Linked DNA regions of Homo sapiens: region 2 is linked to region 1. The links come from fine-mapping of genetic effects on gene expression. A gene starts in region 1. The other region holds a variant in brackets. All regions are shown on one strand. Distances are between the middles of the regions.

Evidence for each region.
Region 2: its variant is fine-mapped to the expression of ACSL5 in whole blood (TOPMed, PIP above 0.99).

What each region holds. Positions count from the first base shown.
Region 1 is chr10:112,369,542-112,381,441 of GRCh38, reverse strand. It overlaps ACSL5 (acyl-CoA synthetase long chain family member 5), which reads right to left and starts at 7,326. Exons shown (of 21, transcript NM_203379.2): 1 at 7,173-7,326. RefSeq lists enhancers at 4,593-5,093, 5,116-5,335, 5,094-5,594, 5,476-5,625.
Region 2 is chr10:112,338,602-112,350,501 of GRCh38, reverse strand. It overlaps the pseudogene GUCY2GP. Among named protein-coding and RNA genes, the nearest start is that of ACSL5, 30 kb to the left of the region's middle. The variant G/A (reference allele first, on the strand shown) is at 6,285.

The DNA of each region.
Region 1 (11,900 bases):
CCTGCCTTGGCCTCCCAAAGTGCTGGGATTACAAGTGTGAGCCACTGTACCCAGCCTATACGTTTATTTTCAGTAAAGTAAACAAAAACTGTGGACCTGTGTGTTCAGCACTGTGCCATGTGCTGAGGGATGAACACTTGGCCGATATAGTTCCTGCCATCTGGGTACTTATGGGTCTATCTAGTCCTAGAAACTCTTACAGAATGCTTCAGTGTGTGCAGTGAGCTCATGGTTTTGAAGGAGGAAGAGGTCAGTGCAGACTGGAGCACATTAAGACGGCTGTATGGAACACTAGAACCTCAAAGATGTGTGATCCTTGACCCCCTGGCTTTATTGCCAATTGTCTCTTTCCAGGGGCAAGGATGATGATCTGGCCAGACATGATGGCCCATCCCTGTAATCTCTGCACTTTGGGAGGCTGAGGCTGGAGGATCGTTTGAGGCCAGGAGTTTGAGACCAGCCTGAGCAACATAGTGGGACCCCATCTTTACAAAAATAAAAAATTTAGTTGGGCATGCCTGTAGTCCCAGGTACTCAGGAGAATGAGGTAGGAGGATTGTTGAGCCTGGGAGGTTGAGGTTGTAGTGATCCATGATCCCGCCACTGCACTCCAGCCTGGGAGCCTGGATGTGCAGAGTGACAAGAGTGTGACCCTGTCTTAAGAAACAAAACAAAAAAGGATGACAATTCTACCAATCAAGCTGATGTCTAGTAAGATCTCAACTATGATTCCAACCAGTGGGCCTGCCACCAAACCATCTTTCTCAACTGTTGTCTGTGTCTCTCTATCTACTTTCTTCACGGAGAGACCAATCATCTCATTAGGTTGGATGGAGCCAAATGGAAGTGGAGAAGGGGAATGGCCAGATGTGCTAGAGGCACTAAAGTGGGACAAGTGGGACATTTAGGGGAGGGAAATGGTGAAGAGGTATTTCTGCTGGAGGTGGAGGGTCCATCTTTAGTTAAAAGGTTGGGGGGCGGGGGGTGGCAGGGGGAAGAAAAAGTCTCCAAGGATGAATGAGATGGTGTGTGGGGCCCAGTGTAGACACTGCACCTCTGGAGCCATTGCCTTCACATACTCCAGAGAGCCTGGGTGGGGCCAGACATTGGCCAGTTGAGCTGAGTAGCATTTATCAGGAGATCTCATGTTAAGTCAAATACCAAGAGCCTCTTAAGTCAGTCCATTAAGATAGCATAGGATAGTTGAGTCACCCACAGGATGTGACCCCAGAAGTGACAAATCCCACAGGAGCTCAGGTCGATAGAGTCAACCTTGATCCACCACTGGGCTTCAAGTGAGTCACAGTCCAAATCCCGACCCCGGGACAACTTGTGTCAGTAACACCCCCAAAGGGCATCCCAGGCCTGCTGCTGACCAAGTATATTATGACAGAACTGGGGTAAGAAGAAGCAGTGTCAGAAGTCCACTGGATCTGATAAGGGGGTCTGTAAAAAGATAGGCCGGACAAAGTGCTAGGACCCTGTCACCTGTGCCAGGGTGAGGCAAGAGGTTGGGAAAGCAGACTTCTTGCCTTAGTTTTCTGCAGAATCAGCCCTTGCACTGCCTGTCCCAACCAGTGGTCAAGGGTCAACAGTTTCAAAGTGCAGGCAACAAGCTTTCTTGTCAACGGTGTCATTGCCAGGGGCAAACTTTCAAGGTCGTGCCCTTCCAGGTACCAGAGCAACAGCTCCTCACTTACTACATGTGTAGCCCTGGGGACAGTTACTTAGAGTCACTGAGCATCAGTTCCCCGCCACTGTACACAGAAGGAGCAGGTGAAAATCGCTACTTAAAGGAGATGCTGTGTGTAGAACAGTTGGTATGCTGTCAGGCACATGGGAAGTCCTCAATCAAATCTAGCTCCCCTTTCCTTCCCTTTTCCTCAGTTTTCACATCCTTGCCAATATCAGATGTTCTATTACGAGATGTCCCAAAAGAAAAGAGATGACCACGGTCTTGAACGATTACTGCCCCTCCACTTCTGTGCAAAGGTTTTAACAAGCCCTCATCTCTTTTTTTTTTTTTTCTTTTTTTTGAGATGGAGTTTCACTCTTGTCACCCAGGCTGGAGTGCAGTGGCGAGATCTCAGCTCACTGCAACCTCCGCCTCCTGGGTTCAAGCGATTCTCCTGCCTCAGCCTCCCGAGTAGCTGGGATTACAGGCAGCTGCCACCACGCCCAGCTAGCTTTTGTATTTTTAGCAGAGATGGGGTTTCACCATGTTGGCCAGGCTGGTCTCAAACTCCTGATTTCAAGTGATCTGCCTGCCTCGGCCTCCCAAAGTGTTGGGATTACTGGCATGAGCCACTGCGCCCGGCCAACAAGCCCTCATTTCTATTTAAACAGAGCACTTCTAGTTGTAGGGAACCATGGCCTGTCTCTGACCTAGCTTTACCCCAGACCTCAAATCCTCAACTTGAGCCACTCGCAACCTCACAACTCTTAGAATAGAATGGCCCATGAAGACTGGGAGATCCACCAGCTTCCCCAAAGAAGGCTAATAGTGTGGCCTGACCACAGCATTGCACGGGCTGTCTGACCTTCCAAACTCCAGATCTCATGTATTTATTCAAACAATGAGTTGAGAACCTAGGAAGTGTCAGGCCCTGCGCCAGGGAGGACAAGTTGGTGAGAGAGTCCCTTTCCGACCTCAGGATGTACAGACATAGAGGGGAGAAATAGACCCAGATGCATTTCCAGCAGAATGTGATAAGCAGTGATGGCTGGACTCATGGCTGCTGGGGTTACGTCACCCTTGCTTGATGCTGCCAGGCACAAGAGTCACCTCTGACTGCACTCCAGCTGAGGGTCTGCTCATCTGCTGAGGAGGCATATGAGAGACAGACAGGAGCAGACACTGTATTCCTGGTTTCTAAGAAGCTGGCAAATCCTATAGGCCAGGTGCAGTGGCTCACACCTGTAATCCCAGCACTTTGGGAGGCCTAGGCAGGCAGATAACTTGAGGTCAGGAGTTTGAGACCAGCCTGGCCAATATGGTGAAACCCTGTCTCTACTAAAAGTACAAAAATTATTTGGGCATGGTGGTGCATGCCTGTAATCCCAGCTACTCAGGAGGCTGAGGCAGGAGAATTGCTTGAACTGGGGAGGCAGAGGTTGCAGTGAGCCAAGATGTTGCCACTGCACTCAAGCCTGGGAGTCTAGGTGACAGAGTGAGGCTCCTCCAAAAAAAAAAAAAAAAAAAAAAAAAAAAAAACAAGAAGAAGAAGATTGTCTTGATTAAATATAAGAGTACCTACTGTGTACTGGTACTTCCCTGGCTTCATCTTCCCTCTCTCCATTCATTTCTCTCTCCTTCCTCCATCTCCAGCCTCCATGTAGTATCTGTGGTCTCACTATAGGTGGATGGTTAGGTATGCAATGACACGCTGATGTTGTTGTTGGTGTCTTTGCCCTCAAAAAATTACAATATAGCCTGGGAGAGACTATTTTAGGTCAGGCTAGGCTGAAATATTCTGTTTGGTCTGGATTAAAAAGTGTTTTCTCTTTTTTAATAATTAAATTTGAATGCATTTATCTGGGGTATGCCTGCTCTGAATTTTGCTAAAGTTTCCACCATTAGCATCTTATTACACACCATCTACTTTACTTCTCTATATTACTTGCCTGTCCTATAAGCATTTGCACTTACACTTCTTGTTTTATTTAGGTTTTTGTTCCTTTTATTATGCCAAATACACAAAAGATGGCTATAAAATTTTACACCATGCCTCTTTCAAGACATGTTCTGTGTTTAACCTTGAATACTGATCAATCGGAGGGGACTACCACAGAGTGACTCCATATCAGAATATGAAGGGAGAAATAAACAAAACCAATTACTCCTTTTTTAAAAGAAAACTAAGTCAGTTTTCAATGTTTTTTTATTTGTTTGTTTGTGTGTTGTTTTTGAGCCAGAGTCTTGCTCTGTCATCCAAACTGGAGTGCAGTGGTGCCATCTCGGCTCACTGCAACCTCCGCCTCCTAGGTTCAAGCAATTGTCCTGCCTCCTGAGTTGCTGGGATTACAGGCGTACGCCACCACGCCAAGCTAATTTTTGTATTTTCAGTAGAGATGGGGTTTCGCCATGTTGGCCAGGCTGGTTTCTAACTCCTGACTTCAGGTGATCCACCCACCTCAGACTCCCAGAGTTCTGGGATTACAGGTGTGAGTCACTGCGCCCGGCCTTAACTTTATTTTTTAAGACTCTGCCTCTGATATAGAATACTAATCACCTACACATTGGAGCTATAGATTCAATTCTACCTTTCAGACCACCAAAAAAAGGCTGATATCTCAGAAGGTACCAAGCCCCGGTGGTAGAGTCCCTTTCCAGTGCTTATTCCCTGAGGGTCTCCGGTGGTAGAGTCCCTTTCCAGTGCTTATTCCCTGAGGGTCTCCGGTGGTAGAGTCCCTTTCCAGTGCTTATTCCCTGAGGGTCTCCAGTGGTAGAGTCCCTTTCCAGTGCTTACTCCCTGAGGGTCTTTGAGATTCACCTTAGGACCCTCAGGGAGTGGGCATTGGGAAGGAAGTACTTAGGAATTAAGCAGCACCTGAGACTTAACCTGTGGCCTTACTTCCTAAAATACACTCAGCTCCATTCATCTGTCTCTCCCACCCCATTGGTCTCATTCATCAGTCTTACCCAACATAAAATTGAGGGCAAACCCCCAGCCCACCTCAGGGGAGCTATGCTGGATGCTCAGACCCACAAAAAGAGGTCTCTGTTTTGGTTCACCTTCCCCAAGAGAGTCGAGAGAAGGAAAGTGAGCCCCATGCATGCCCCACATCCTTCCTTCCCGTTGCTCCTCCTGACACAGGGTCTGAAGGCATGACCGAGACCAGGAGGGAGACAGCATGATGTGCCCGTGGAACTCAGCCGGCCCTTGATTCTAAGTCGCTTAAAGAAAGTCGGGGGTCAGGATGCCCCCTTGGCCTCTGTCACACCCTCACAAGACCCCCTTGCTGAATAACACCCCCTCGATGGTCCCCTTACCCTGCGAGGGGGCCGCATCTCTCAGTGCTTCTAGTGAATGGGGGCTTCCCGGCTCTGAGTTCTTCCTGCCACACGAGTCCCTGTCCTTCTTCCCTCGCTCGTGGTTCCTCCAGAGACAGGGTGGCTTCAGAGCGTCCATGCAGGCAGAAGGCCGGCCCAGAGTGTCCCCAGTTCTGCCCTGCTCTGAGCTGTCCCGAGTCAGGCCATGTCAGGCTTTCTAACGTGCTCGGGGACTTCACTTCCTGGTTTTAATTTTTTTTTTCACAACTGAAAGTGGAAGTGTTCTGACCAGGAGGGGAGAAGCTGCCAAAGCTACCCTGGCTCCGTGTCAAAGCCTTTCACCTCAGCCCCTAAGGGCCGACACAAAAGCCAGCTTGCCTCAACACAGTTGACCCTGCCCTCCTGTGGCCTATCATCTTTCAACTAAGATGAAAACAAACAAACTAAAATGACTTGAGGTGCCCCCTCAGATCAGAAGCCTCACAGAGGCAGAGGTGACGCTGTTCCCTGCTGGATTCGGAGGACAGGAAAGTCTGGCTAGAGGGTACCTCAGCCCTCAGACCCACACAAACACCTTCTACCCCGCCTCTCTCCAGTCGCCAGAGCTGCCTGCCTTGGTCTCTGAAGAAGTTCTGGCAAAGCCAAGAAAATAAGCAAGTCAGGAACGACAGGGCTGTGAGTCGTTCAATTGGCATGGTTTCTTTCCCTCTGATACAGTCACACCTCAAAACTTAACTTAAAAATCGATTCTTTCGCCTTGGTCACCCCCAGTATTACCAGGACCTGTATTAGTCTCATTTTTGATCCGCCTAAGGCTGTGGCTACAGGGGGGCCCTGGAGCTACCATTCTCAGATTAGGAAGCCGAAATGACAAATTTTCCTGCCCCTTCCCCACCTCACAGATACCTCAGAATGAAGCAGCACTTTCTCCAGCCTCGATCCCCCACGAAGGCTCACAGGAAGTTCAGCATGATCCTGGCTCTTTGCTGGAGCTAGATTAGGGTTTGTTCTTTCTACAGAGCAGTTCTTAAAAGCTTCCTACTAAGGAAGCCAGGGTGAGCTGTGCCACAGTCTCAGAGAACACAAGAGCTGAGCCCTTGGCCTCTGGGGAGCCGCCTTTGGACATGGAAGAAAGATGAAGGGCTGGGAGACGAAGTGGGGCCTGTGGCATTCCATCCTCTGGCTCATCTCACGGCTGGAGGAGCACTTGTCATTTGCTTAGTTTCAGGAACTCAGCTCCCCAAGAGGCAACTTCCTCTAGAGGAGAGCAGAGGATGGCAGAGTGGGTGTCGAATCTCAGCCACACTAATACCTCTGAGCCCTTCACCGGGTGCTGTCTTCCTTCACCAAAGGGCTCAGGGCCAGGGGAAGATGAGGTTTTATTTCTTTTTTTTTTATTGACCTCCTCCAGTAAAAATGCTCAAGTTCAGGAAGGTTGAGTCATTCTAAAGGCCCATCAGAGTTGTATTCCTATCAATCCTCTGTGCACATGAGTGACACCCTCAGGATTTCAGGGGGTAACTGAAAGCTTTGGCAACCCACAACAATTCTGCATTATTGGGCAGGCTGTGGAAACTGACCAATCAAGTCTCAAATTCTAGCCACACCACCTTGGAGCTATGTAGCTTAGGCCATGCTGTTTAACAGCCTGGAGACGCACTATGCCTCTGTGAAATGGGAAGGATACCACCTGCTTTATAGGATGAGATACACCAATGAAGTAACATACATAATCTACCCAGAACAGTCCCCAGCACCTAATCGAATATCTGCTGATTCCCTTCCTCTCTGTCTGCCAAATGGGACTCTCTGCCCTCAGCAGCTGACGCACGATCCTTCTAACTACACTGAGACAGAAATTTCTTAATGGAAGATGAAGGAGACCCACATTCTGGCTTGGTGTGCTTTAGTACACTTACCAAAATCAGTGTTCCCTTCCAATTCCATCCCCTGCTAGCATTTGGATAGCTCATATATCTCCACCCCTTTTCCAACTGATTTTTTTCTTTGCCTCCCACACAAGTCAGCTGAGATTACTATTCAACTAAATGTAATTTCATGTTATTAAAGAGCCTTAGGTTGAGCATAACAAATCCCACTTTCTTTCCCCACACCAATCCCCTCCCTACTATCTCACAGATATATTCAATATAGTGCAGGTAGTATCATTGCAGCTTACCTTGGAAGAAGACTCTCCCTTCCTGGGTCCAGGAAGTGCTCCCCTCACAGCTGGCTGTATTGATTCAGCACCACATTCAGGCACTTCTACTCTTTCCACAGCTCCTAGGACTGACTGGGACACACCCGAAGCTACTGTGTACTGTCCTGAGAGTGGCCAACACACTCCCCTGGAACCTTTGAATCTGTCACAACAGAAGTTCAAAGGTAGAAGTTACCTGTTCAAACACTTGTAGTAACCTCTGACAGTAAGAAAAGCAGTGTTGGGCAAAAGATTAAAACAAGAGATTGTTATGCAATGGGCTTAAGCGGGAAAAAAAAAAAAGACGGCCCTTAGTTCAGAAAGCTAACGTTTACCAAGAGAAACCTTCGATAAAGCTCTACCTCAGGGGAAGGAGAAGGGGTAGACAGGGCTTTGCATCTGCTTTGGGGGCACAATCCTTGAGACTGTGATAGGAAGAGGAAGGTCTAGATTACTAGAAGAAAAAGGGCTCCTTGAGATCAGAGTGAGAGAAAAATGAGAAGCCACTTTAATTGGCTCAAGCTATAACTTTAGGATTCAGACTAAGCAGAGGTGTGCATTTGCAGACCAGCTATCTTCTAGAAGGGACCACTGCCCCCTTCAGAATTAGAACGTCTCCAAGACAACCAAATGAGCCAAATCAGTCTAGAGTCTAGGCTGAGAGACAAGCCTAGGACGGTTGTTTTTAGGATTCGGAATCACGAACACAGTCTGCAGCACACATAGTTTAGCAAGGCGCTAGAATAGGAAGCATTGCTTCCTGGCTAACACGGTGAAACCCCGTCTCTACTGAATACACAAAAAATTAGCCGGGCGTGGTGGTGGGCCCCTGTAGTCCCAGCTACTTGGGAGGCTGAGGCAGGAGAATGGTGTGAACCCGGGAGGTGGAGCTTGCAGTGAGCCAAGATCGCGCCACTGCACTCCAGCCTGGGCGACACAGCGAGACTCTGTCTCAAAAAAAAAAAAAAAAAAAGAAGCATTGCTACTGCGTCATGGCTCAGCCATCCTACTCTCTCCTTTTTTTTTTTTTTTTTTTTTTTTGAGACGGAGTCTCACCGCAACCTCCACTTCCTGAGTTCAAGCAATTCTCCTGCCTCAGCCTCTGGAGTGGCTGGGATTACAGGCATGCACCACAATGCCTGGCTAATTTTTTTTTTTTTTTTTGTATTTTTAGCAGAGACAGGGTTTCACCATGTTGGCCAGGCTGGTCTCGAACTCCTGACTTCAAGTGATCTGCCTGCCTCGGCCTCCCGAAGTGCTGGGATTATAGGCATGAGCCACCATGCCCAGCCTCTCTTTCCACTTTGAAGTTCTCTAGTCACCATTCTTGATTCCAAGATCATTAGGACTGCAAGGCATCATTACTAAACAAAAACAGTGGGTAGAAATGAAAGAAACCCTGGAGATGATGTGCAAACTTACTGTATAGGTGAGGCCAGTGAGGCCTTTTCAGGTGAAAGAAGGCTTCTGGAATCACACAACCAGTCGGTCAAGACAGCACCTGACTCAGAGTCATGAGAACCCCTGCAGTGCCTTGGCCCCTATGCTGCCCCATTGATCTGTGTATGTTTAGCTACCAGAATGAAGCCGCGGACCCTCGCAGTGAGTGTTACAGTTCTTAAAGGCGGTGTGTCTAGAGTTTGTTCCTTCTGATGTTCAGATGTGTTCAGAGTTTCTTCCTTCTGGTGGGTTTGTGGTCTTGCTGGCTCAGGAGTAAAGCTACAGACCTTTGCAGTGAGCATTACAGCTCATAAAAGCAGCGTAGACCCAAAGAGTGAGCAGTAGCAAGATTTATTGCAAAGAGCTAAAGAACAAACCTTCCACAGTGTGAAAAGAACCCCAGGTGGTTGCCACTCCGGGCTCGGACAGCCTGCTTTTATTCTTTTATCTGGCCCCACCCACATCCTACTGATTGGTCCATTTTACAGAGAGCCGATTGGTCTGTTTTACAGAGAGCTGATTGGTCCGTTTTGACAGGGTGCTGATTGGTGTGTTTACAATCCCTGAGCTAGACACAAAAGTTCGCCATGTCCCCACTAGATTAGCTAGATACAGAGTGTTGACACAAAAGTTTTCCATGTCCCCACTAGATTAGCTAGATCCAGAGTGTCGATTGGTGCATTCACAAACCCTGAGCTAGACCAGGGTGCTGAATGGTTTACAAACCTTGAGCTAGACACAGAGTGCCAATTGGTGTATTTACAATCCCTTAGCTAGACATAAAGGTTACCCAAGTCCCTACCAGAGTAGCTAGATACAGAGTGTCAATTGGTGCATTCACAAACCCTGAGCTAGACACGGGGGGCTGATTGGTGTGTTTACAAACCTTGAGCTAGATACAGAGTGCCCATTGGTGTATTTACAATCCCTTAGCTAGACATAAAGGTTCTCCAAGTCCCCACCAGAGTAGCTAGATACAGAGTGTCCATTGGTGCATTCACAAACCCTGAGCTAGACACAGGGTGCTGATTGGTGTGTTTCCAAACCTTGAGCCAAATACTGAGTGCCGATTGGTGTATTTATAATCCCTTAGCTAGACATAAAGGTTCTCCAAGTCCCCACCAGACTCAGGAGGCCAGCTGGCTTCACCCAGTCGATCCCGCACCGTGGCCACAGGTGGAGCTGGCTGCCAGTCCCACACCGTGTGCCCACACTCCTCAGCCTTTGTGTGTCTGGAATTGGTGGGTTCTTGGTCTCACTGACTTCAAGAATGAAGCTGCACACCCTGGCGGTGAGTGTTACAGTTCTTAAAGGCAGCGTGTCCGGAGTTTGTTCCTTCTGATGTTCGGATGTGTTTGGAGTTTCTTCCTTCTGGTGGGTTCGTGATCTCACTGGCTCAGGAGTGAAGCTGTGGACCTTCGCGGTGAGTGTTACAGCCCTTAAGGTGGGGCGTCTGGAGTTGTTTGTTCCTCCCGGTGGGTTCGTGGTCTTGTTGGCTTCAGGAGTGAAGCTGCAGACCTTCGTGGTGAGTGTTACAGCTCATAAAGGCAGTGTAGACCCAAAGAGTGAGCAGTAGCAAGATTTATTGCAAAGAGCGAAAGAACAAAGCTTCCACAGCATGGAAGGGAACCCCAGCAGGTTGCCACTGCTGGCTGGGGCAGCCTGCTTTTATTTCCTTATCTGGCCCCACCCACATCCTGCTGATTGGTCCATTTTACAGAGAGCTGAGTGGTCTGTTTTAACAGGGTGCTGATTGGTGTGTTTACAATCCCTGAGCTAGACACAAAGGTTCTCCACGTCCCCACTAGATTAGCTAGATACAGAGTGTGGACACAAAGGTTCTCCAAGTACCCACTAGAGTAGCTAGATACAGAGTGTCCATTGGTGCATTCACAAACCCTGAGCTAGACACAGGGTGCTGATTGGCGTGTTTACAAACCTTGAGCTAGATACACCGTGCCGATTGGTGTATTTACAATCCCTTAGCTAGACATAAAGGTTCTCCAAGTCCCCAGCAGTCAGGAGCCCAGCTGGCTTCACCCAGTGGATCCAGCACTGGGTCACAGGTGAAGCTGCCTGCCAGTCCCGCGCCATGAGCCGGCACTCCTCAGCCCTTGGGGTGGTTGATGGGACTGGGCGCAGTGGAGCAGGGGCCGGTGCTTGTCGGGGAGGCTCCGGCCACACAGGAGCCCACGGAGGGTGGGGGAGGTTCAGGCATGGCGGGCTGCAGGTCCTGAGCCCTGCCCCGCCGGGAGGCAGCTAAGGCCTGGCAAAAAATCCAGCACAGCACTGGTGGGCCGGCACTGGTGGGCCGGCACTGCTGGGGGACCCAGCACACCCTCTGCAGCCGCTGGCCGGGGTGCTAAGCCCCTCATTGCCTGGGGCCGGCAGGGCCAGCCGGCCGCTCTGAGTGCAGGGCCCGCGGAGCCCACACCCACCCGGAACTCGGGCTGGCCCGCAAGCACCATGCGCAGCCCCGGTTCCGCCCACGCCTCTCCCTCCACACCTCCCCACAAGCTGAGGGAGCGGGCTCAGGCCTCAGCCAGCCCAGGAAGGGGTTCCCACAGTGCAGCAGTGGGCTGAAGGGCCCCTCAAGTGCTGCCAAAGTGGGAGCCCAGGCAGAGGAGGTGCCCAGAGCGAGCGAGGGCTGTGAGGGCTGCCAGCATGCTGTCACCTCTCACTTGGAAGGTCGATGGGAAGGGGCAACGTGGAGCAGGGGGCGGTGCTCGTCGGGGAGGCTCTGGCTGTGCAGGAGCCCATGGCTGGTGGGGTTGGGTGGGGGAAGGCTCAAGCATGGCAGGCTGCAGGTCCCGAACCCTGCCCCACAGGGAGGCAGCAGCTAAGGCCCAGCGAGAAGTCAAGCACAGCAGCTGCTGGCCCAGGTGCTAAGCCTCTCACTGCCGGGGGCCAGCGGGGCAGGCCTGCTGGTCTGAGTGCGGGGCCTGCCGAGCCCACGCCCACCCGGAACTCTCGCTGGCCCACAAGCCCCGCGTACAGCCCCGGTTCCTGCCCGCGCCTCTCCCTCCACACCTCCCCGCAAGCTGAGGGAGCCGGCTCCAGCCTCAGCCAGCCCAGGCAGGGGCTCCCACAGTGCAGCACGGGCTGAAGGGCTCCTCAAGTGCCGCCAAAGTGGGAGCCAAGGCAGAGGAGGCGCCAAGAGCAAGCAAGGGCTGTGAGGGCTGCCAGCACGCTGTCACCTCTCACTTACTGTATTTGGTCAGGTGACCAATACCAAAATCAGAAGCTAATACCACTTCCTGTTGACTC
Region 2 (11,900 bases), 31 kb after region 1:
GAGTAAAGCTGCAGACTTTCGCACCATGTTATAGCTCACAAAGGTAACATAGAGCTAGAGCAAGCAGCAGCAAAACTTTAGCCCAAAAAGCAAGACAACAAACTTTCCAAAAAGAACCCAAAAGGGTTATCGCTGTTAGCCCACGCAGCTTTTTATTCCCTTATCTGACCCCACCCACATCCTGCTGATTGGTCCACTTAACAGAGAGCTGATTGGTCCATTTTGACAGGGTGCTGATTGGTGCGTTTACACACCTTGAGCTAGACAGAGTGCTGATTGGTGTGTTTACAATCCTTTAGCTAGACATAAAAGTTTTCCAAGTGCCGACCCAACTCAGGAACCCTGCTGCCTTCGCCTAGTGGATGCCGCCTGCGGAGCTGCCTGCCAGTCCCAAGCCACGCACCCACCCTTCTCAGCCCTTGGGCGGTCGATGGGCGGGGCCCTTTGGGGACGCTGGGGCTGCGCGGAAGCCCACTGGTGGCGGGGGGGGCGGAGGGGAGGCATGGCAGCTGCAGGTCCTAAGCCCTGCCGCGTGGGGAGGCAGCTGAGGCGCGGTGAGAATTCGAGTGTGGCGCGGACGGGCCGGCAGTGCTGTGGCACCCGGTGAACCCTCCGCAGCCGCTGGCCCAGGTGCTGAGCCCCTCACTGCCCGGGGCTGGCGGCGCTGGCCGGAGCTCCGAGTGCGGAGCCCACCCCCACCCGGAACTCACGCTGTCCAGCGAGCGGCACCCAGCCCCGGTTCCCGCCCGCGATTCTCCCTCCACACCTCCCTGCAAGCAGAGGGAGCTGGTTCCGGCCTCGGGCAACCCAGAAAGGGGCTCCCACAGTGCAGCGGCGGGCTGAAGGGCTCCTGAAGCACCGCCAGAGTGGACGCCGAGGCCAAGGAGGCGCCAAGAGCGAGCGAGGGCTGCTAGCACGTTGTCACCTCACTTTTATCATCCTCGTTTTACAGAAGAGGAAACTGAGGTTCAGAGAGGTGCCAAAACTTGCCCAAGGCCATCCAACTAGTATGAGGGAGAGCTAGCATTCAAACCCAGGTGGCCTGGGCTCCTTTTCTACCTCTCATCAAGTGCACTGATGCATGGAAATAATGCACGTAGTATCTGCCTCACAGGGGGCTATTGTGTCTGTGCTTGTAAGCATCTTACACAACAGGCATCTACAAAAGCTACTTGCCTTTTCCTATGGACACGGTGCATTATTTTTCTAGCAGTTTTATCTTTCTAAAATAAGCTTTTTAAAAAAATCACAAGAAGCTGAAATAGGACAGAAGAAAATAAAGGGAGATATATAGTAATGTCCCAGATTTTTCTTTCTTTATCATGAAGTCTTTCAGATCCACAAAAGCATCTCAGATTTCTTTGGGTAGGGAGCTGGAATCCTAAAGGCATGCCAGACTTTCCAGAACACTCTCTTACCCTAGATATCCATTGTGACCGCCTCCCTTTCTCTTCACTTTTCCTCTCATCTCTGCCTTCAGGCACATTGTTTTGGCAGGGAAACTTTTCAACTCCCCTGTTGCTTTCTCCCACACATTGATGATCCATTCCAACTGGTGTGTAATGGCAGAAAGAAGGTAGAACTAAGAATACACCAATGTCTATGCAATTGAATTCATGCTGCTTCATGAAAGAATAGCATAAATCTATTTTATGAAACTATTCCCAGTATAGGTTTAGGTGGAAAAAAATCAAGCTGCATTATGGTATGATATCATCATATATATATATATATGTGTGAGTGTGATGTCATATATATGTATATATACATACATATATGTATAATGAGTGGGTATATACTGTTCATAATAGTAACGTAGATTATAATGATAATGCCACAAGCAAAAAAAATTTAAAAAAAGCAAGAATCTATAGTCTTAAGCTTTTTAAGTTTTTGCAATCATTGTTAGTAGGTAAGCTTTCTGCATCTTAGCAGCTGTATGCACCAGGAACATTTTTTCTTTTTATTTGTGGCTTTCCTTCCACTGCTTATATGCCAGCTAGAGAATGTGGACCTTGTATTGCAGGCCTTCTGGAATCACTGTGTTTCCAGGAATTAGAATGTAGTGGTTCAAATTAAACATTGTGTTACACGCAGTGCCCTTGCCAAGGCATTTCCTACCGAATAACAACATTTATTTTATTACTTTTTAGGACCGTTTTTGGAAGGAAGTACTGACAAATCAGAAAATGATGCACCTCCAAAAGGTGTATGGGTCACTGCTTCTCATTGCCCTCAGCTCCTACAGAAAAGGCCGTGGAGACGAAGGCTTTTGGAAACAAGTCTACCAAACACCGAGGAGGTCGCCCTTCCGCAGCACCATCTCCTGGGAGGAGCAGGTGTGATGCCGGGTCTTCCAGCTCAGGCTCCCTCCTCCCCTTCTTTGATCATATTTGTGTTTGCCTTTGCATTTCTCCCTCTTATTTCTCCTCATCTCTCCCTACCCCCCTTACACACATGCAGGTGCACACACACATGCACTTCCCCATCTTCCACGCCCAAAATAAACAGCAGTTTGATGCTCTCTTGTGAATTTATACCTCAGAGGTTACTGGGTGAAAGGCCTTTGGAGCAGAGGCCTATGCCCCCATCCTACTGCTGCTGTTTGCTAACTGTAGGACCTTGTAGTGAATTGCTTAACCTCCCTACACCTCGGTCTCTTCTTCTGTGAAATGGGACTGATAATGGCATCTACCTCCCAGGCTGTGGTGGTGTGTATTTAGTAACATTGTCCATGGAAGAAGCAAAGTATATATCTTCTTCTTTTGAGGGAAGGTCTCGCTGTGTCACCCAGGCTAGAGTGCAGTGGTGCAGTCATGCTCACTACATCCTCGACTTCCTGGGCCCAAGCAACCCTCCCACTTCAGCCTCCTAAGTAGCTGGAAATATAGACACATGCCATCATGTCTTGATAATTAAAAAAAAATTTTTTTTGTAGAGACGCGATTTCCCTATGTTGCCAAGGCAGCTCTTGAACTCCTGGGCTCAAGCAATCCTTCTGACTTGGCCTCCCAAAGTGCTAGAATTACAGGCGTGAGCCACTGTGCCTGGCCCAGAACAGATATTAATGGGTACCCAGACCATGACAATTTCCTTCCCCAGGAGGATGCCAGGACCTAGACCCAGGATGGAGTGGTCAGAGATGTGGAGCTAGGACAGGTCAGGGCCAGCAGGTGGGCTGGAAAAGGGAGGAGATGATCAGGAGAGAGAGGGTCCGCCTGTGGTAATCCCAGTATGTGTGTGATGAGGAGGCAGTATCTGGCTTTCACAGAGAAGTTTTTGAAGAGAGACCTTTGTCCAGAGCTGGAGCTACTTCCAGTGTGGGGCCAAGCTGAAGCCTAAGGTGACCACAGGCCACTGATGACAAGGAGTTTGATTAGAAATGAGGGGGCCGATTGTGGATCCCAACATATAAGACAAGATAACCAATTAAAGAATATTTGAGTAACAGTCTACTAAGTGTCAGCTTTGTATCTGGTACTGTTGGGAGAACAGTGCCTGGCACTTAGTAGGCACTTGTATTTTCCTTGACTGCCCAATAGAAGACATCACGTCCTGAAGACCTACTAAGGGTCAGGGACTGCAATGGATAGTTTACCTATTATGCCTCATTTAACTATTGTCACATTCAACCCAACAGCAGTTTTATCCCCCTCCTTTTTTTTTTTTTGAGATGGAGTCTCGCTCTGTCACCTAGGCTGGAGTGCAGTGGCGCAATCTCGGCTCACAGTAACCTCTGCCTCCTGGGTTCAAGTGATTTTCCTGCCTCAGCCTCCTGAGTAGCTGGGATTACAGGCACCTGCCACCACGCTGGGCTAATTTTTGTATTTTTAGTAAAGATGGGGTTTCACTATGTTGGCCAGGCTGGTCTCCAACTCCTGACCTCGTGATCCGCCCGCCTTGGCCTCCCAAAGTGCTGGGATTACAGGCGTGAGCCAACGCGCCCAGCCTATCCCCATTTTATAAACGAGTGAGCTGAGATTCAGAGAGGCTGTGGAACTTACCTCGGGACTCATAGCCAGTAGGGAGCTGAGCTGGTCTAGTTCCAGCATGTACCCTCTTTCCCTGAAACCATGCTCCCTCCCACCTGTGGCCTGAAGAGCGTCCCTGAAGGATCAGAAGATCTAAGTGGGAAACGCAGCATTCAGAAGGAAAATGAAGACTGCGACGTCTGGGTTTCATAGTGCAGGCGCAGGTGTATGCTGGACCCTCTGCTCTGTGGGATGGGGGAAGAAAGTGCTGTGTGCCACTGCCGGGCGGACGGAACAGAGATTCCTCCTAATTTAGTGCTGGACGGTGACCCAAGAGGCCAAGAACCTCTTGAGACCCTGCTTTGCTTGTCTTATTGAAGGTGAGCCCTTACTCTGCCTACCTTCACGACGCCGTCCTGCTCTATGCTGAGACCGTGAAGCAGGTGGTAAAGGCTGGAGGCGACTTCCAGGATGGGTGGCAGCTGGTCAGCGCTCTGAAGGGTTCCAGTCAGACCACAGTGCAGGGTAGGTGGCTTACTGCTGGAGGGTGTTCTAAACTCAGACCTGCGGCTCCAGTCGGTGGGGGCTTTGAGATCTTGGGCATGTAATTAAAGGCCTCTTTCAGGGCCTGCCTCACACTGAACTCCAGAATTCATCTTTCTTATGGGGATTCCTGTCTTCCTTCTGTAAGTGTAGTTGAGGTTAAGACCTCCCAGCTCCCACAGTTCGCTCATCCTTCTGGCCAGAGCCTGCCCAGACCAGGAGAGGAGGCTGCTGGGCACCTTATCCCCTTTCCCCTGGGAATTCTCCCCCGCAGTTCCATTCAAACTGAGTCCATCAAGAATAAAATTCAGAAATGTGAGACCTGTCTCCCGGGGTCACTTCCCATCTGCAGCCTCTGTGATGGGGGCCCTGGCACCACAGACTTCTGAAGATGGGTTGTAGTCTCATTCTTGCTTTCCTGGTGGGGATGAGTATAGGTTGGGGAGTGAACCGCTTTCAAATCACATTCAGCTGACCAACTGCTTTGATCTTTCTTGTTCTCGTTTTCTCAGTTGTAAGATAGGGATAACACCTGTTACCACATGCAGAAATAATAACCAGCATTTAGGGAGGGCTTACCTTACACTAGGCCAAGTGCTAAGAGCTTCCGAGTATTACCTAATTGAATCCTCACACAGCCCATGAGGCAGGTACTATTTCTATCTGTATTATTCAGGTGAGTAAACTGAGGTTACAGAGGTTATGTACCTTGTCTAAGGTCACAAAGTTATTAGATGGTGGAGCCAGGATTCAAAATCAAGTCTGCCTTCTCCAGGGCTCATGTTCTTTGCTATCCTGTAACATAGGAGTAATGAGAATATGACATGCACCTGGCACATAGTATGTGCTCATTAAATAGTAGGTTCTTTTTTTTTTTCTTTTGAGATAGGGTCTTGCTCTGTCACCCAGGTTGGTCTCATACTCTTGGGCTCAAGAGATCCTCCCGCCTTGGTGTCTCAAAGTGCTGGGATCATAGGTGTGAGCCACTGTGCCTAGCCAAATGGTCACTATTTTTATCCTTGCTTTGGCTTATCTTTTTGGCTTTTGGCTTATAAATTATTACCTAAAATTTGTCTGAAAATTTAAAGACAGCAGCCAAGGCCTGCTCTTTGAAGTTTTCATAGAAGCAGGTCGCGTTTACCCTATTAATGCCTTTTGCAAGTGGAAATATTCACCAACTTCTCTCCTTTCCTTTCAGACCCTAAGGCATTTGCTTAAAAAGGGGAGAGGTCACAAGGGGGGATCCTTCTTTCTGCTCTCAGTTTAATCCCCTCTGCCAGATCAATTAATTCCTCTTTCCTGTGGTTTTAGAAATTCTTCATGCTGGAATGAGGGGAGGTTGTGAAGAGCAGTGAGGCCCTTTAAGAGCCTGAGTCATCCCACTTTGGTTCTGGGACCCGTGGGCCCCTTTCAGGGACTCATGACCAAAGGGCCCTCCTCACCCCTTCCAAACTGGCTTCTGTTCCCTTATGGGCTACAGGACTAGCCTTGGCAGAACTGGAGTATTTGTCTCTGCTTCCTGTGTTCATTTCTGCCACATGGTGGCAACCACTCCATCGGCCAGTGCCGAAGGGCTTTTGCACCATTCCAGAAGGAAAGCCTCTTCTAGGAGGTCGAGTTAGGGAGCAGAATCCCCCAACCCCACTGGCTTTGGCTCAGTGAACGCAATGCACACTGAAAGAAGTGGCCCTGGTTGTCGCAGGAGCTCTGGCCTTTCCCCTGCAAACCTCAGGCTCAATACCCACATTCAGGATGCCCACGGATGTGTAT[G/A]CAGAAAGGCAGTGTGGCATGCTGGAAAGAACATGGCACTTGGGGCCTGATAGGCCTGGGTTTGTGTACCAGCTGTGCCTCTTCGTGGCCCTGGCAGGAAGACCCGAGGAGTTCATGCCTCCAAGCTTTGCTTGTTGGGAGCAGATGATGGTGCCCCTTCTGAAGGGTTAATTAGGATTAGACATGGGAAGTCAACACCACCTGCAGTGCCCAGCACTTATTAGGTGCTTTATCAGTGGTAATTTTGTGTTCTGTCCCCTGTGGGACAAAATCAGCAATAAGTCCTTTGTCAGAACCTACGTACTAGTTTGGGGTGTGAAGGAGCTGTGCTTCCAAGATGCGTTCCTTCAGTAGTGGAGTTAATCACGTTCTAAGAAATAGCAAACAGCACATCAGGCCCTGTAAAGCCTCTGCACCAAGCCTCTGCAAAGGGCCTGCAAGGCCTCTGCACCCAGACCAGGAGGGAAGGGGCTGCCATGAGAACAGAGATTGCAAACTTGTGCCCCAGGGCCTGGCAGCATGGAGGCGTGGGGTGGGTGGGGTCAGGGGAGGAAGATGGGAGGAACTGGAGGAAGCAGCTGTCCCTCGGCCCCAGACGACTGCTGACATGTTGTCACATCTGATTGTTCGAGGGAAGCATAAATCTCAGGTTTTAAGTGAAATTAACTGGAAACAAACTTTTTTTTTTATTTTTAAGTGCTGGATGAGCTTCCCCAGTGTGGGCCTGAGAAAATACATCTGCCTGCCCAGTGTGGCCCTTTAACCCTAACAGGATGCTATCTCTGAACTGTCTTCTTCCCTTTGCTGGTCCCCATTGACCCTGTCTCAGATTCACTGAAATGACAGAAACCCTGTGTCTGGTTTTTAATGGCTGTTGGGGAAGGGGGTTCTGTTGATTTGAGTTGGGGCAGGCTGGCATTTTGAGCCACATGTTGCTGTCCCTCTCCTGACCTTGTGCAATCTCCTGTCTTTCTAGGAATCACAGGCCCTGTGTTTGTGGATGCCCAGGGAGAAAGGCACATGGATTACTCTGTCTATGCCCTGCAGAAGTCTGAAAATGGGCCCCTTTTACTTTCTTTTCTTCATTATGACAGTTATCAAAGTAATCAGATACTGGCCGGACATTTCTGCAAGTGTAGATTGTGCTACAGAAAGAGACATAGGAAGAGGAGGGCCCTGGGAAGGCCAGTTTGGGATCCAGTCCCTAGAATCCCCCAAGTAGCCTGGTGCTCTTAGAACTCATGAAGATAGACTTTGGGCCTTTAAGGTGATTTTATTCCCTTGACTGAGGTTATGGCTTGACCGTTTCAGATTTCAGTGTAGGACAGAGTACCCACGAACTGCACCTCCACCAGGGCCCTGTTCTCCTCTCGTGTTCCAACCAGTGGTCCCATTGGCCATGGTCTAGGGGAGAGGCCCTGGGCCCAGAGCGGGTGGTGGAGCACAGCGTCCCCGAAGGGATGGGTTTACAGGCCCCGAAATGGCTCACCTAGACAGCCTGACTCCCAGACACATTTGGACACCAGCAACCAGAACCCAGGAATCCTGGGGAAAAAACAAAACAAAACTTTGTTTTTGTTCTTTCAGCTACAAATCAATGAGAAAACTAAAAGGAAACCTAAGATGTAATTCAATTTCCACTCACCCCCACTGCCACTACTTCCAATCCAGATTCAACTTGAGGCTTTTTAAATTTTTAGACAGTCTTGCTCTGTTGCCCAGGCTGGAGTACAGTGGCACAATCTGGGCTCACTGCAACCACTGCCTCCCAAGTTCAAGTGATTCTCTTGCCTCAGCCTCCTGAGTAGCTGGTATTACAGGTGCATGCCACTGCACCCAGCTAATTTTTGTATTTTTAGTAGAGACGGGGTTTCACCATGTTGGCCAGGCTTATCTTGAACTCCTCACCTCAGGTGATCCACCCACCTCAGCCTCCCAAAGTGCTGGGATTACAGGTGTAAGCCACCACACCCAGGCAACTTGAGGCTTTTTTCTCCCCTTCTCTTATGGAATTTTAATGGACCAAAATGGGCCAGAAAACAAAGTAACCATGGCAAACTAGGTCTTTAGTATTGTCAGAACAGGCACACTCCACATAGGAGGAGATGTTTTGTTCTGTGAAATGTCAAGCTGCTATATAACAAGATTTGTCTACGTCAAACACAGATGAAAGTCCCAGCAACATTGACTTGGCATGTCATCTTTTAAATCAAAAGAGACATGGTTTAAGTCAAAAGATTGAGGAAGCTATTTCAACAGCAAAAAGATACTGCCTTCCTTGAATGAGATTACCTGAAGGCTGGATTTGAAGAGCCTAGGAGAGTTGGGCAAACTGGACAGAAGTTTGAATTGAGAGACCAAGGCTTGAGTTTTGCAAATAACATGCATTTTTCCGTTGTCTCTGCTGTACATGAGGTAGAGTCAAATAGAACAAACTGAGCTGACGCTGACCTTTATTTTTTTTTTTAAAGACCCACAGGGAATTTCTCCAATATGACCTGGCCGCATGGCTCCCTTCCTGAAGACAGACCTGGCTGTGGATTTTATAATGAGCTCTGTGAAACTCAGTCTGCTTTTACGGGTAAGTATGGCTGTTTGGAGAACGTAGCAGGGAAAGACTTTCTATAGTAGGGTCTCTGTATGGCAGGCAGCACTATTGACATTTTGGGCCAGGTAATTTTTGTGTATGGGGAGGCTGGCATTTCAAGCCATGCATCCCTGTATATTATAAGATGTTTAGCGGCACCCCTGGCCTCTACCCACAGATGCCTATAGCAGCCCTCTAGTCGGAATGAGAAATGTCTCCAGACATGGCCAAATATCCCCTAGGAGGCAACATCACCTTTTTCCCCTGTGGAGAATCACTGCTCTAAGGGAAACTGGCTCCTGAGATTTGAGTCTCAGGAACTTCACCTCTAGGGAGGTTGAAAGAGTCTGGGGAGGGGAGTGTGCCCCAGTGGTTAGGAGCCCAGCCCTGGAATTAGATGGATCATGCCTGGAGAACCACCCTAAGGAGAACACACAGTAAATGTTTTGTAAACACTGCTGGTGGAGTTAGAAGTCATCATTATTATTTCTCTGCAGTGGAACTTTCTATACAAAGCGGGAGGTGAATGCAGTTCCAGTGGGAACTAGGGTGGTAGTCAGGGAAGAATTCCTGGAAGAGACAAGTCAGCGTAGACTTTGTGTGTCCTACCCCAGACCTTCCAGAGGACAGCCTTTGAGGAACCTGCTCGGCTGGGCCCAGCTGGGCAGGGATGTACTTGCTACTGCTCTTGGGCAAGGCCTGGGTAATATGCCTCTACCCTCCAGGCGTGACTGCTGTGCTTCTGACATTGATGATCCTCATTCCTGTCTTGGGAGCTGCCATCATAGGTCTGATTTTAAGGATGCAGAGGCAAAACAAAGACATCTGGTGGCAAATCAATTTTGATGATATCACCATTCTTCCCCAGAACAAGGTGAGGCCATATGTGACCCAGATGTCCCATTTCCTGGTCACTGCTGGAGATGTGTGGAAGGGACCTCATCTAGGAGCTTATAAGAGCAAGAGGCTAATTTATTCAGTGAGCACTTCATGAAGAGTCTGCAGGCCTGAGTTCTGGTTCTAGGCCTCCCACTTGCTTGCTGAATCTGAGAATGTCATTTTACCTCCCCAAGACTCAGTTTCTAAATACTTACAAATGATTGACAGTCTCTAAAGTTCCCTTTGCTCTGTTACTCTGTGGGTGAGAACTGTAGATGGTGTTCAGATATTAAAGCTGTCTCCTGGGGAGGATTTAGTTATTTTATTTTTTGTTTTGTAATTTTTTTGAGATGGAATTTCGCTCTTGTTGCCCAGGCTGGAGTGCAATGGCACGATCTCGGCTCACTCCAATCTCTGCCTCCCGAGTTCAAGTGATTCTCCTGCCTCAGCCTCCCCAGTAGCTGGTATTACAGGTGCCTGCCACCATGCCCAGCTAAGTTTTTCTATTTTTTTTTTAGTAGAGATGGGGTTTCACCATATTGGTCAGGCTGGTCTCGAACTCCTGACCTCAGGTGATCCACTCGCCTCAGCCTCCCAAAGTGCTGGGATTACAGGCATGAGCCATCGCTCCTGGCCGGATTTAGTTATTTTCAAAACCACATTAACTCCTTTAATCAATTGATGACTAATACAATAATGTTCATTTGCTTGACAGGGACTTGACCATTAACTACAGGCCAAGCATCATACAAGGTATGGGGATATCCCACAAATGAGATGCCTCCAGAGGGAGGCAAGTGTCAGAGAGGTGTTTCCACGGTGAGATGGAAGCCTTGCAGATGGAGGGACTGAAGGTCTCAGCATCTGGAAGGCTTTGGAGAGGAGGTGACATTTGAGAAGAGTGAGTTTGCAAGTGATGAAAAAGAGTGAAGTACACAGGATATAATGAGATGTGGGATGGTCAGGGCTGGGAAGCTTAGCTGGTACCAAGTCAGGGAGGCTTCAACATGCTAAGAGCAGGTGACTGTGATTCATTAGTAACTCATCTCCAAACGTCCCCGGGGATTCAGACACTTACTCTTCCATCTTCCACCAAAGCAGCTCTGCTTCGATCTACCTCATTTCTACATTAGGGTTCCAGATAAGATTCTCCTTGAAAACAAGATTCCTATGCTTTGAAGGTGTTTTCTAGGTGTTGGGAGGCACTGAGAGTGTTAAACAGAGACAACTTGGTTAGATGTTCTTTAAGAAAATGGCTCTAACCCCAGGCCACACATCTAATTAAGTGCCACAGCCAGAACTTGAGTCTGGGCAGTCTGACCTCAGAGCCTTCCCTCTTAACCTACACCTCCATGGTGGTACAGATGCCATAGAAGGCATGGATGATTGGATGATGCTGTCCTAGAGTGATGCATGTAACAGGTCAGAAAGATCAGGGTTCAAATCCTGGCTCTCTTATTATTAACTGTCTGACCTTGGCACTCAGCTTCCTCATCTATAAAATGCATTCCCTTTTGTACTTGGCCTTGCTGCTGAGAGTGACCAAATTACTTCCTGTTTTACAGCCATCCCAGAGAGCCACACCTGTGTCAAAAGGCATCAACAGTAACTCATCTAGTGTGATGATTTCTGTGGACCTCAGCTCTTTTGTCAAGAGCCAGCAGTGGGAAGAGCTCTTCTATGCCGCAGTAGGGCTTTATCAGGTATTTCTGAGGCCAGGTGGCTGCCCGTAGATCTTAGTGTATCTCTGTTCTGTTCTCTGCATCGTTTCTGCCAGGCAGGGCATTCTGAATAGAAGAACATTCTGCTAGCAAAAGCCAAGGTGGTCTTGTGACTCCATACTAGTGCTTCCCAAACCTTAATGTGCAGATGGATCACCTGGGACTCTTATTAAAATGCAGATTCTGGGTCAGTAGGTCTGGTGTGGCACCTGAGATTCTGCATTTTAAATAATCTCCTGGCCGGGCATGGTGGCTCACGCCTGTAATCCCAGAACTTCGGGAGGCCAAGGCGGGCGGATCACGAGGTCAGGAGATCGAGACCATCCTGGCTAACACGGTGAAACCCCGTCTCTACTAAAAATACAAAAAATTAGCTGGGCTTGGTGGTGGGTGCCTGTAGTCCCAGCTACTTAGGAGGCTGAGGCAGGA